Homo sapiens: one gene and its partners. The protein of the gene in region 3 purifies or fractionates together with the protein of the main gene of each other region. This does not show direct contact. Each region holds a gene or a part of one and is shown on either strand. Other genes may lie near its edges.

What was found.
Region 1: the proteins of USP26 (region 3) and ALB purify together in Homo sapiens (affinity purification with mass spectrometry, with the first as the bait; one large-scale study listed by BioGRID). This does not show direct contact.
Region 2: the proteins of USP26 (region 3) and ATP1A2 purify together in Homo sapiens (affinity purification with mass spectrometry, with the first as the bait; one large-scale study listed by BioGRID). This does not show direct contact.
Region 4: the proteins of USP26 (region 3) and CPSF1 purify together in Homo sapiens (affinity purification with mass spectrometry, with the first as the bait; one large-scale study listed by BioGRID). This does not show direct contact.

What each region holds. Positions count from the first base shown.
Region 1 is NC_000004.12:73,407,287-73,410,786, reverse strand, and holds part of ALB (albumin preproprotein), read right to left. Parts: intron 2,194-3,500; coding exon 1,982-2,193; intron 1,433-1,981; coding exon 1,300-1,432; intron 476-1,299; coding exon 378-475; intron 1-377. UniProt on the Homo sapiens protein: Binds water, Ca(2+), Na(+), K(+), fatty acids, hormones, bilirubin and drugs. Its main function is the regulation of the colloidal osmotic pressure of blood. Major zinc transporter in plasma, typically binds about 80% of all plasma zinc.
Region 2 is NC_000001.11:160,129,259-160,132,758, forward strand, and holds part of ATP1A2 (sodium/potassium-transporting ATPase subunit alpha-2 precursor), read left to right. Parts: intron 1-7; coding exon 8-142; intron 143-843; coding exon 844-1,033; intron 1,034-1,163; coding exon 1,164-1,339; intron 1,340-3,500. UniProt on the Homo sapiens protein: This is the catalytic component of the active enzyme, which catalyzes the hydrolysis of ATP coupled with the exchange of sodium and potassium ions across the plasma membrane.
Region 3 is NC_000023.11:133,090,610-133,094,109, reverse strand, and holds part of USP26 (ubiquitin carboxyl-terminal hydrolase 26), read left to right. Parts: intron 1-2,666; 5' UTR 2,667-2,757; intron 2,758-3,346; 5' UTR 3,347-3,392; intron 3,393-3,500. UniProt on the Homo sapiens protein: Deubiquitinase regulating several biological processes through the deubiquitination of components of these processes.
Region 4 is NC_000008.11:144,402,836-144,406,335, forward strand, and holds part of CPSF1 (cleavage and polyadenylation specificity factor subunit 1), read right to left. Parts: intron 2,999-3,500; exon of another isoform or gene 2,995-2,998; intron 2,461-2,994; exon of another isoform or gene 2,330-2,460; intron 156-2,329; exon of another isoform or gene 32-155; intron 1-31. UniProt on the Homo sapiens protein: Component of the cleavage and polyadenylation specificity factor (CPSF) complex that plays a key role in pre-mRNA 3'-end formation, recognizing the AAUAAA signal sequence and interacting with poly(A) polymerase and other factors to bring about cleavage and poly(A) addition.

The sequences.
Region 1 (3,500 bases), on a different chromosome or scaffold from region 3:
GTATCCACAAAAATTAAAAATAACTTTAAAAAATTAAATAAAGAACCATGCCTACAGCTCTATAAAAATAATGAACCATTAGAATAAGAGTCCAAGATTTTATAAATAAATAGAACTTAAATATCTGTCCCTTTTTTTAGGACAAAAAGGACAGCGTCCTCTAAATTATTCAACTATTTAGAAAAGAAAAGATTAAAAATAATGTCAAATTGTCATTGATATTCTGATTTTTACCTCTATTAGAGTTCTACCTGTTAGACAACCAAAGAAATGTATTTGACAGCACTTTGCAAAATACATAAAAATGTACAATTTGTCACTGAAGCATTATCATTTACATCGTTATAAAGATGCCAACTATGTTTAAAAGTATTTACCATGCTTTGAAAGCTCTTTCTCCAAATTTTTGGAGACTGGCACACTTGAGTCTCTGTTTGGCAGACGAAGCCTTCCCTTCATCCCGAAGTTCATCGAGCTACAAAAAGGAATAATTTGATGAAAATTAGAAGAAAAATTCTACATGAAACACCCCTCCATAAGCTCAGATGAGACTGTGCCAAATTAAATTTTGAAGGCATAATTTATGCCTAAATTCCCAAGTACTCCCTTTAGCGAATAATGATTTTGCTCTCTAAGAAAAGGAAAGATCATTCGATCATTCTGGTCACAGCGGAATTCCCTATGTAGTTAGAAACCAACTGGAAACATTGCCAGGAAAAAGAGCCTTAAAAGTGGGAGAAAAGTCAGAGAAAGAGTACGCTAATATCCCAGGGGCTGCAATTTTGCTAATTTTTAAATTTTGTGTATAATTCATTTCAGTCTCTCCTCCACCAACATCAGTAAACTCCTCAGAAAAGAAAATAAAGCATTCCATAATATATATTTATGGAATGAATGCATGAACTCAGGCATCTAGATGCAGTAAAATTCTCTACTTTGAATTCCCTCCCTACTAAAAATTATCATGAAAAGATAAACAAGAACTGTGGCCCCTTGCTGTGCAATTTGACAAACAAGTTTCAGTATTTCACTATAGTGATCACCACCATAAAAAGTGGTGAAATCTTTAAACACATGCACAGTGATTACCTCTGACAGATCATCATTGGCAAATCTTAAAAGAAGAAACGAGAGTGTAGGCCTTCAAAGATGAAAGATTTTCAAGACAGATAAAAGGAAGGCTTTTTTGACCATGTCGGAAAGTTTGTATCAGACACTCAGGTTCCCTAAATCTAGCCACAAAATGGACAAAATCAGGTTGGATAATGAACTCTTTTTTTCTATTCTTTTGCATAATACCTTTGGCAACAGGCAGGCAGCTTTATCAGCAGCTTGGCAACATTCTGTAAAAGCAGCTTTATACCTTTTAGCAAAGAAAAGGAGTTCCGGGGCATAAAAGTAAGGATGTCTTCTGGCAATTTCATATAAGTATCTAAATTTTGAAAAAGAAAAACAGTCACTTTTCTATAGCAGACAATATTACAGAAATAATTGTAATCGACATTCTCCCCAGAACCTCCAAATTCCAAAGATATCTAATTAACCAATTAAGCTCAATTTGCACATGATGGTCTTGTCTCTGTCATTCTTTAAGTATGTGGAAAAAAGGGTTAAGTGTGTGTGTGTGTGTGTGTGTGTGCATAAATGGTTAAATTTTGGCAATATAATGTTGCTGACTAAAACGAAATCAATTATAACAACCATATATACATATCTTCGTAATACATTAAATAATTTGTCTATCTTAAATTTTTCAGAAAGATTGTATCCTGTTTCAATAAACTTCAAAATATCTTTGATCATATTTTTTGCTGTGTAGAATTTTGTGGTATCAAATACTACTTCTTTAAAAAATCATCATAACAAAACTTCCAAGTCTTAATGTTGAAAATATTTTTGTTATGGTAATTTTTATAGAGTGTTGGCCTATGGAGTTACTCCATGCTTTTTAATTTTGAACTATAAACATCTGATTACTTACTTTTTCAAAAATGTCTCTTCATTGTCATGAAAAGCAGTGCACATCACATCAACCTCTGGTCTCACCAATCGGGGGAGGTTTGGGTTGTCATCTTTGTGTTGCAAGAAGCATTCATTTCTCTCAGGTTCTTGTTTTGCACAGCAGTCAGCCATTTCACCATAGGTTTCACGAAGAGTTGCAACTGTGCATAATTTGTCTCCAAAAAGGGTATGCTAAATGGAAGAAAGCAGGTTTCAGTTGCTGGACAGTACCTTTTTTCTTTATAGCCAAAGAACAGTACAAAGGATTTAATATACTGGTTAAGCTTGGTCAGGAAATCATTTAAAAATCCGCTTCCCCTCCCAATCGAGGTTTACAGTTTCTGATGATTTAACCATCTCTATATAATTTTCATAAGAATTAACTGTCACACTATAACTCATGGTGAATAAAACAGGACAAAAAGACAGTCAATAGCTTTAAGGAAAGTTATATGACTCCTATTTTGAAACTTAAAACTAAAGGGTAAGAGCAATCATTATAACAGAAATCAAGAGAAAATAAGCTTCTAAGCAGCAGGTGAATTCACCTAGGGGAGAAAAACATTCAGAGAGTTTCTCATTTCATTTGCCCCCTTTTTAGAGGGCCATGTTTTAGTATATGCCATTGAAAACTGAGGAGTAACACAATCCATCATATATTAAGTGACTATTAAGATATAGACATTTTTCTTCCAGAAATGTTACCTAAAATCACTTTCCAATAAATGAGTCCTTTCCTTATCTCTAATTTTTATTATGAAAGTAACTGTAACCCCAGGGAAAATATACTACTCTAGACAGAATTTATTAATTTTTATGTATTTTTAAGATTTCATATGTAGAGCCATAGTATTGTGTAAAGTTAAAGTCCTGACTCTGCTGTGAGGGAGAGGTACATAATAAAAAGGGGAAAGGCTCCAGTGATAAAAACTGGCCTTGCCCACAAGAGGTATATATAGATTGAGTGGTGAGAGAAAGATAAACCTGTCCTTGTTTTGAAGATTGATCTGGAAATACTAAAAGTTTAAAGTTCTTCAACATGACTAAGTACTCTGCTTTTTTATTGTATGTAGAAATACAAAGATATCTAAAATGAGGAATATATAGCTGTACTATTATTCCACCCAGGTAACAAAATTAGCATAGAAATCAGTGGGTGTTTTCTGATGATAAAAACCATGATATCATCTCTAAGAGATAGTAGCTCTCCTGTGTTCATTGCAACACTATTCATGATAGTCAAGATGTAGAAAACCAACCTAAATGTCTATCAATCAACAAATTAATGGATAAAGAAAATGTGGTACACACATGCACTGGAATATTATTCAGCCTTGAAAAGAAGGAAATTCTGCAATAGGCAACAACATGGTTGGACTTTGAATGCACTATGCTAAGGGAAATAAGTCAGTCATAAAAAGATAAACAGTACATAATACCACTTATATAAGGTAGCTAAAGTAGTCAAACTCATAGAATCAAAGAGTATAATGCTGGTT
Region 2 (3,500 bases), on a different chromosome or scaffold from region 3:
CTGGCAGCGGGACACAGCTGGTGATGCCTCTGAGTCAGCTCTGCTCAAGTGCATTGAGCTCTCCTGTGGCTCAGTGAGGAAAATGAGAGACAGAAACCCCAAGGTGGCAGAGATTCCTTTCAACTCTACCAACAAGTACCAGGTCTGCTTGGGTTGCCAGGACAGAGGAAGAGAGAGGGATATAAATGGGTGAGGGTGGACAAAGCCAAGGGGAATCATCACTAGCAGGAGTGGGGGTGTCTGAGGGTCATGTTCCCTCCCCCTGCTAAGTCCCCCAGGACAGCTCATATGACTGCATGTCTGATTGCAACTAGCCCCAGCTCCCAAACCTTACTCCATCCCTTACTACAATCTGTCACTCTCTCAACTCTTCTTCCCATAGCTCCGCATCCTCTGGCCTAGCCTTCCAACTCTTCTACCCCAGTCAGTGAAACCATAATTCTGTAATTCCTTTATGGTGCCCCTTAGCCTTTAGGCACCTGTTAAATGCCAAGAATGCAATCTCAGCATTCCTTATTATCCATAGAGGTAAAGCCCCCTGAGGCCAGGTGGTGGTGGGGATGCTGAGGAGGGAGCCGTTCAGCCCCTAGCACAGTGCCTGTCTTAACCTGACCTCAATAAATATTTGTTGAATGAAAGACTGTCCTACGGAGGTGGCTCTCAGGTTACAAGTGTTGGAACTGTGAGGTCTAAACACCCCCCTGCACAAGGAGATTCTCTTTGTTGACAATCTTTGATGGGTTGGGGCTACTTTTCTAAGGTGGTTTCCTTACCAGCTGCTGCTCTATGCCGCGCTACCAAGACAAGTATGGCCCTCTCTGTAACTACCTGTTGTCTCTCCAGCTGTCTATCCACGAGCGAGAAGACAGCCCCCAGAGCCACGTGCTGGTGATGAAGGGGGCCCCAGAGCGCATTCTGGACCGGTGCTCCACCATCCTGGTGCAGGGCAAGGAGATCCCGCTCGACAAGGAGATGCAAGATGCCTTTCAAAATGCCTACATGGAGCTGGGGGGACTTGGGGAGCGTGTGCTGGGTGAGAGGCCAGAAACAGGAGGCTCAGAAGGGGATTCCCAAGCCTCTGCGGCATCCCTGGGGTGGGGGACTGTGGGGGCGTCCAGGAAGCCACTCTGCGGATCTCACTGATCCCTTCTGCCCCCCTTTAGGATTCTGTCAACTGAATCTGCCATCTGGAAAGTTTCCTCGGGGCTTCAAATTCGACACGGATGAGCTGAACTTTCCCACGGAGAAGCTTTGCTTTGTGGGGCTCATGTCTATGATTGACCCTCCCCGGGCTGCTGTGCCAGATGCTGTGGGCAAGTGCCGAAGCGCAGGCATCAAGGTACTGGCCTCCCATCCTCCCCTCCATTCTAGCCTCCCCCATGCCAGAGTTCAAGGAGCTGCAGTGGCTGCTGCCCTGGAAAGGCCCAGGCCACGGTGGCCTCCTTCCCACTGACTCAGAGAAGAAGCTGTCCATCTGCAAGGAAAGGCCCACCCCTGCCTTGGGGCACTCACCCTTATCCCTTTTGCTCAGAGAGGCCAGTGTCCCATGCCCCTCCTCTCCCTCCCTGGCACAGCTCTTTGTCCCATCTGCATGTGTACCCTTCCATTCTGATTTGAAGCATAATCTGGCACTCCTATCTTGAAGACCTAGTTGTCCTACCCTTCCCAACTACTGCCCACCCTCTCTGTCAACTTAGGATGGGATTAGCAGGCTCTTGTATGCTCCCAGTGGCTCAGCCCATAACCCCACAGAATGCCTCCCACTCAAGGTTCTCTTGTTCAACTACAATTGCTTCTCACTGACCACTCCCTCCTCTGTGCTATGTTTGTTCTTCATTCAACAAATATTTACTGTTTACTATGTTTCAGACACTGTGCAAGGTGCAAACTCTAGCACCTTGCACAGTGCCTGATACATAGTAAACAATTTGTGTCACATGACACATCTAGATGGGACAATGAGCTGTGCCAGGGAGGACACATATAAATCAGGCACTATTCTAAGCACTAAACCTCTATGATTTCATTTAATCTACGCAACAACCCTGTGAATAAGCACCAGTATTTTTCCTTTTTTACAAAGAGGGAAACTGAGGCACAAAGTAACATGCCAAGGCCACACAGCTAGTGTAAGTCATAGAGCAGGTACTTGAACCAAGGCAGTCTGCTATTTCTTAACTATCATACCAGGAGACTTGTTTCTGTGGGTGTATGTGGTTTCTGAACCCCATAACCACTCTGTCTCCGAGGCAGGCATCATTATCCCTGTTAAAAGTAAAACAAGGCTGGGCACAGTGGCTCATGCCTGTAATCCCAGCACTTTGGGGGGGTCCAAGGCTGGTGGATCACCTGAGATAAGGAGTCCAAGACCAGCCTGGCCAACATGGTGAAACCCCGTCTCTACTGAAAAAAAAATACAAAAATTAGCCACGTGTAGTGGCAGGTGCCTGTAATCCCAGCTCCTTGGGAGGCTGAGGCAGGAGAATCACTTGAACCCGGGAGGCAGAGGTTGCAGTGAGCCGAGATTAGGCCACTGCACTCCAGCCTAGGCGACAAGAGCAAGACTCCATCTCAAAAAAAAAAAAAAAGTAAAACAAATGGAAACTGCAAGTGGGTAAGTCTTTTCCCCAAAATAAAACCACCAGTAAGTGATGGACTGGGACTATGAAGCATGATCTGCTTGACCGGAAAGCCTGAGCTCCTGCTGCTTGGCCAGGTGCCTCTCTCTGTGATCAGAACCATCACGGAGGCCTGGGCAGAGGACCTCTATGGGAAGTCAGCTCAGGGAAGCATTAATTCTGCCTCAGAGAACTGGACGATGTTTGACAAAAGGAATGATATTTGAGCTGGGCTTTGGAGGTCAAAGAGTATTCTGCAAAGCAGTGAGGGAGAGGAAGGCATGTCAAGATCAGGGAACAGTGTGTACCCTGGCGTGGCTAGACTGTACGGAGCGTGTGTAGGGGTTGGCAGGGGAGAGGTGGCAAGGAGTACTGGGGGTTGAGACTGGAACACTGGGTCAGAGCCAGTTGGAAGGACTTGGCTTAAATGCCAGACTTGGGCTTTATCCTGCAGGCCACAGAGAGCCATCAGTGTCACGGGGGAGGTTGAGCTTTTAGGAGACTACCTGGTTTGAGGAGGGACTGGATTTGGGGAAGAACTGGAGTCAGGGAGAGACAGGTTAAGAGGCCATTGCCATAGTTCAGGCAAAGAATGATGACCTGAACTAGGGCAGAAACAAAGGGAATGGAGAGGAATAGCCATGTCTGAGAAATGTTTTGAGAACTTGGTGACCAAACTGGATATGGAAGGTGAGGAAGATACAGGAGAGAAGGGGACAGGATGAATAGAGAGGACAACATCTAAGGTAGGGAGCAGTAGCAGGCTTGGTGGGGTGGCAGGAGTAGAGAAAAGGAGTTCAATGTTGACCTTAAGCTTAAAGAGTCTATAAGATACCCCAGGAAAGACAGATGTTCCAGTGAACATTGGAGTATGGTTTAGAG
Region 3 (3,500 bases):
ATAATCACTGAGAAACAAGATTTTTGCTTTGAGGATAAAGTGTAAGTATTTTTTTAAATGGTGCTGATTGAATTTACTTATTAGTCTTTGGCCTGGTTTACTCTTTTTTTTTTTTTTTTTTTTTTTTTTGAGACAGGGTCTGGCTTTGTTACCCAGGATGGAGTGCAGTGGTGTGATCACGGCACTCTACAGCCTCGACCTCCTGGGCTCAAGTGATCCTTCCACCTCAGCCTCCTGAGTAGCTGGGACTGAAGGCATATGCCAACCCACCTGGCTAATTTTTGTATTTTTTATAGAGACGGAATTTTGCCATGTTGCCCAGGCTGATCTCCAACTCCTGGGTTTAAGTGATCCACCCCACTTGGCCTTCCAAAGTGCTCAGATTATAGACGTGAGCCACTGCACCTGGCTTATATTTCTTTTTTGACATTATCTGTTAAATAATGCTATGAGAGTTGAGGATTTTTTTTTCTTTTTTGGACACAGAGTCTCACTCTGTCGCCTAGGCTAGAGTGCAGTGGTGCCATCGTGGTTCACTGCAGCCTTGACTTCTGGGCTCAAGCAATCCTTCCACCTCAGCCTCCTGAGTAGCTGAGACTATAGGCATGTGCCACCATGCCTGGCTAATTTTTCTTCCTCCTCAATAGACTTTAAGCTCCATGGGGGCAAGAACTTTTTTCTTCCGTGCTATAAACGTGGTGTCTCTAATAGTGCCTGATATATAGCAGGCACTCAAGTAATATTTGTTGAATGATTTAATCTAGTAATTTTTCTGGATACTGATTAAAATGTTTATTTAATTTTACTTTTTGTTTTTTTGAGAGAGAGAGGTTTCACTCTGTCACCCAGGCTGGAGTGCAGTGGCAGTAATCTTAGCTCACTGCAACCTCTGCCTTCCTGGGCTCAAGTGATCCCCCCACCTCATCCTCCCAAGTAGCTGGTAGCTGGGATGTGCACACCGCAATGCATGGTTTGTTGTCATTGTTGTTGTTTTGTTTTGTTTTTCTTTTTGTTTTTGAGAGATGGGGTTTTGCCATGTTGCCCAGGCTGGTCTCCAACTCCTGGGCTCAAGACATTCACCTGCCTCAACCTCCCAAGTGTTGAGATTACAGGCGTGAGCCACTGTGCCTGGCCTAGCCTGGTTTATTCTTGATTTGGATTTGAATTATATATATTATCTAGCATCTGAATGACTTATTAGTACCTTTATTGGTAGAAAGTTGGTGTTTTCCAAATATCCTTCTAGATTGAATTTAGAAACCTGAAAAATCAGTTGCTGGTAAGAATGAAAGTTACCTCTGCCTTTGCTAATATAAGGTGCCAAGATTTCAGGAATTAAGATATTAACTAGCCTCATAGATCCTGACTTTTTGAGCAGAGCCCTAGATCTTAAATAATAATTTAACCCTAGAATTTAGAATTTAGATCCAGGTATTAGGCCGAAGGCACTTTTCTTATGTCCACTTCGCCCATAGAATCCTAGAGGGGATATTTTCCAAAGAGCATACCCACAAAAGCCAATATTAGCAACTGTAAACTTTTGTGGATTATTTCTTTGAAGATCTATTCTCAGTGTCAGATGGCACCAACATTATTTAATGGTTGCAATTATTCGTGAAATTATCCTAAATGATACTAGCTTCCTTCTGATGTCCATGTTTTTCTAACTTACTGTGTTACTAATTACTTACACGAATACACCATGAGAATGCTATTGTATAAGCTGGTGAACAACTCAAACCTCCGATTTCAAAAATTTGTTATCTGTGATCCTGTATGAGTCTTTTTCACCATGGTAATGAATACAATCAACTGACATCTTTGAGACTCCCCTTTCTAGAAGTTGAGATCTTGCCTATTAGCTTAATATATAATTCCCCTATAATGTTTGATTAAAGCAAGATGAACTATAGTTTATTTTGAAGGGACAATCAAACCTCTGAAGCAATAGTCTTGTCTGATCTTGTAACCACAAGATTAATGCAGTTCCTATTATATTATGTTTCACCCTGTATGATTGGGTACCTTGATCCAACCAACCATTTTCAGAAGTTTCTCTGAATAAGTGGAAAAGGAAGTGTTCCCCAGCCATCCACCAAAATGAGTTCCAAGTTATGTAATTTTCCTGCAGTGGTGCTGGGCTGTCCATCCACAGGCAAGTCTCTTGGCAGATTCATACAGTCACCATCTCCTTCAGAACCTGTGATGGAAAAGTCCAGTACCAGTGAGCCTATGGTTCTGTAATGTGAAAAAGATGGAATTGGAATCAATTGTCAAGATCACCTAGACAAGTTCAGGGTGTCCTTACATTGTGTGAGGTGACTAGTGTCTTATGAAGGGCAGCCCCCTCCTCCTGTCCCCTGTGCATCATTAATGATGGCATTGAAACCCCTTCCTAGAGTTCTAGAGATAGGGACTACCAACAGTGGTAGTCACTCTTCCTAAGTACTGCTGACTCCATGATACTGACTCTGTTTCTACAACCTGTTCCTTTCATTAGACAGGGGCATATTTTTCTACTTCTTAATTGTGTTCCTCATGTACACTGTGGGTGCCGCTGTTACAGAGACATTGACAAACTTAGACTGTTCTGATTTCAAATAAACCTGATTTTGACTTTTTAACACCAAAGTTCTGATCTTTATTTCTATTTTTTGGAAAACCAGTAAGAGACAGCAGCAGGAGGGACTGGACTGGATTGTAGAAAACTTCAAGAGTTAAGGAGTGCGGAGTGCTGCTCAGGTGCCTTTGTTTCAGGTATGAGAATATGGGTCTGAAGGTAATTTGAAAGCCAGCCTTATATATACAAGGAGGGAAAAGATAGGTCCTGAGGACCAAGTAGGTGTCAGGGAATGGTAGTCTGCCAGCCTGCTCCACTTGTGACATTTATTTGCTAGGGTTCCTGAAGGTATACGCCAGCAATTAAAGTAATATGTAGGTTATTACTCCTTCAGATGTTTACTGTTCCATACATTGTTGTCCATTTCCTTGCTCTGCAGACATTGCTGGTATGACAAGGTTCCAGTTTCTGAGTCTGAAAGACACTGGGCTCATTTTCACTCTAAGGCAGTAGTCTGGCAGCTCAGCTGGTTTCTAACATAGTATTTTCACACTTTGTGACACTGTTAAAAATTGTCAATGAATTCAGGCATTGGAAGCTGGGGACAAAGATTTGGGGTTTGCATGCTAAGGCTCCCTAAGCCTTGTGTTTCCTGTCTTGTTACACAAAAGAAGTACAGTGGGATGAATGAATTTGGGTAAATAGATCATGACAAAAAGTGCTAATGTTATTTGGGTTATGTTGAATGCTCCCATATAATAAATGCTCTCTCTTGTGCCTGTCCAGGTCATAGTCTCTGTTCTATATAGCAGCCAACCACAAGGGTTGATTGGTAAGCATTCCTGCATCTGTGCTGTTCCCCCTAGATTGCTATCTGATATGTTTGTTTCAAACATGTGGAGATCCTGTGTCTGAACTTGATTTCACCATTGCTGTCAAT
Region 4 (3,500 bases), on a different chromosome or scaffold from region 3:
ACAGACAGGTGGGACAGGAAGTGACACCAACCTCCTCAAAACGCCTGCAGATGAGCCCAGTGACAAGCAGGGGTATTGTAACACAACTGGGTTGAGTTATTCCAGGAACGCAAAACTAGATTTCCGCAAGAACAGCCATCGCTAAACTTACCATGCTGTCAAAATTAAGGAGAAAAATCATGTCATTTTAGTGGATACAAAAAAAGCATCTGATAAAGGCATTCGTGATAAAAACTCCTAGTAAAGCAAAAATAGGAGGAAAATTTTTTTTTTTTTTTTGAGATGGAGTCTCACTTTGTTGCCCAGGCTGGAGTGCAATGGTGTGATTTTGGCTCACTGCAACCTCTGCCTTCCAGGTTCAAGCGATTCTCCTGTCTCAGCCTCCTCAGTAGCTGGGATTATAGGCGCCCACCACCACGTCCAGCTAATTTTTGTATTTTTAGTACAGACAGGGTTTTGCCATGGCCAGGCTGGTCTTCAACCCCTGACCTCAAGCGATACACTCACCTCGGCCTCTCAAAGCGCTGGGATTACAGGCATGAGCCACCACGCCAGGCCTTTGTTTTTTGACATAGGGCCTCACTGTCTCCCAGGTTGGAGTGCAGAGGAGCAATCATGTTTCACTGCAGCCTCGACCTCCTGGGCTTAGGTGATCCTCCCACCTCAGCCTCCTGAGTAGCTGGGACCACATGTGAGTCACCACACCTGACTAATTTATTTATTTTTTTAAATTTTGAGACAGAGTCTCACTCTGTCACCCAGGCTGGAGGGCAGTAGTGTGATCTCAGCTCCCTGCAACCTCTGCCTCCTGGGTTCAAGCAATTCTCCTGCCTCAGCCTCCCAAGTAGCTGGGATTACAGGCATGTGCTACCATGCCCGGCTATTTTTGTATTTTTAATAGATAGGGTTTTGCCATGTTGGCCAGGATGGTCTCGAACCCCTGACCTCAGGTGATCCACCCACCTTGGCCTCCCAAAGTGCAAGGATTATAGACATGAGCCACCGCGCCCAACTTCCTTAATCAAATAAAGGGTATCTACAAAAAGTCTACAGCAATGTGGTGCTGGGAGTGAAACATTACAAGTTTTCCCTTTTGAGGCCGGGCACAGTGGCTCACGCCTGTAATCCCAGCACTTTGGGAGGCCGAGGTGGGTGGATCACCTGAGGTAAGGAGTTCGAGACCAGTCTAGCCAACATGGTGACATAGTGAAATCCCGTCTCTACTAAAAATACAAAAATTAGCTGGGTGTGGTGGCAGGTGCCTGTAGTCCCAGCTACTCAGGAGGCTAAGGCAGGAGAATCGCTTGAATCCGGGAGGCGGAGGTTGCAGTGAGCCAAGATCATGCCATTGCACTCCAGCCTGGGGGACAAGAGAGAGACTTGGTCTCAAAAAAACAAACAAAAAAAGAAGTTTTCCCTCTTGGTCAGGACCAGCCAAGGACGCCTGATCCACTCTGCCAAGTATAAGGTCAATATACAGAGATCAACTGCACTTCTGTGTACATGCAAGAAACAGGGGTAACCACTCAGAAGAATTTTTTTTTTTTTTGAGACGGAGTCTTGCTCTGTCGCCAGGCTAGAGTGCAGTGGCACAATCTTGGCTTACTGCAAGCTCTGCCTCCCAGGTTCAAGCCATTCTCCTGCCTCAGCTTACCGAGTAGCTGGGACTACAAGCGCCCACCACCACGCCTAATTTTTTTTTTTTTTGTATTTTAGTAGACTCGGGGTTTCACCATCTTGGACAGGCTGGTCTTGAACTCCTGAGCTCAGGCAATCCACCCACCTCGGCCTGCCAAAGTGCTGGGATTACAGGCGTGAGCCACTGCGCCCGGCCACCACTCAGAAGGATTTTAAGAAAAATGTGTACATAGTCAAATGGTCTAACTGGCATGTTGGGGGAAAGGGGACAGAATCAATAGCTAAAGAAATAGCGACCAAAGGCTGGGCGTGGTGGCTCACGCCTGTAATCCCAGCACTTTGGGAGGCTGAGGCAAGCGGATCACGGGGTCAGGCGATCGAGACCATCCTGGCTAACACGGTGAAACCCCGTCTCTACTAAAAATACAAAAACATTAGTCGGGCGCCTGTAGTCCCAGCTACTCAGGAGGCTGAGGCAGGGGAATCGCTTGAACCCAGGAGGTGGAGCTTGCAGTGAGCCGAGATTGTGCCACTGCACTCCAGCCTGGGTGATAGAGCGAGACTCCGTCTAAAAAAAAAAAGAGAAAGAAAGAAAGAAAAAAAAACCTTGAAAATCTGAATAAGAGGACGTTTACAGGGTTTCAAAATAAGTCCCTACAAGATACTTTTAGTTACAAAAGGAAGAAATAACCTTACAGTGGGGGAATCCAGGCCAACACTACCCAACCAAGCATCAAAGCATCAGCATCCAGTCATGAGGCAAAGGCCTCCGCCGCCTCCTGAAAGCTGATGGGGCTGCTGTTTGCCTCTTCTGTGGTGTTCCTGTCAAAAATACAAATGTCTCATCTAAACACCTGGGAATGTCTTGGCCGGGCTCCGTGGCTCACACCTGTAATCCCAGCACTTTGGAAGGCCAAGGCGGGTGGATCACTTGAGGTCAGGAGTTCGAGACCAGCCTGGCCAACATGGTGAAACCCCATCTCTACCAAAAATACAAAAAATTAGCTGGGTGTGGTGGCAGGCGCCTGTAATCCCAGCTACTCGGGAGGTTGAGGCAGGAGAACTGCTTGAACCCGGGAGGCAGAGGTTGCAGTGAGCTGAGATCGCACTGTTGCACTCTATCCTGGGTGACAGAGGGAGACTCTCTCTCAAAAAAGAAAAAAAAAAGACAGCTGTATGAAAGGTGGCTGTCTCCCTCCCTCTCCAGGTGAATCTGGGCTGGAGGCTGCCTTTAGGGCAGACTGTGGTGGCAGGGACGGTGCCCTCCTGGTCTAGCCCTTAAAGTGACTGGCAGCTTCTGCCTTAGCCTCCTAGGGCTCTGAGTTCCTGCAAGAAGCTCAACTACACCAACACCACCATGCTGCCAGGAAAACCAAGCTAGCCATGCTGGGGACAGGGGAGAGTGGAGGGACGGTGTGGGGGTAGGGGAAGACACATCTAGCCTGTCCCCAGCTCTTCAAGTCATCCCTGTCAAGGCTTGCCCTGGTGGAGGAGAGCCAAGGGCTCCCCACACTCTGATGAATCCCTGAAAACCTGGCTTCCAGGTCTGCGATTATGATAAAAGACCTCGTTTGCATATTCCAGGGCAGTTAGTTACAGAGCCACGACTAGACTGACCCCAGGAGGATGGCTTGAGCACAGGAGTTCGAGGCCAGCCTGGACAACATAGCAAGACCCCGTTTCTTAAAAACAAAAAACAAAACAGAAGAAGAAAACCTCTTTTCCTGCTATTTATGGCTCCATTTCTTGCTTCAGTTTACGCACATCTCCTCCAGAGTTGTCTGTGTTCACTGTTACTGACTCTCCTCCCCTGCTGGGCTCTTACCCCTGCTCCATTCAGACCACAACCCCTCGTGCCCACC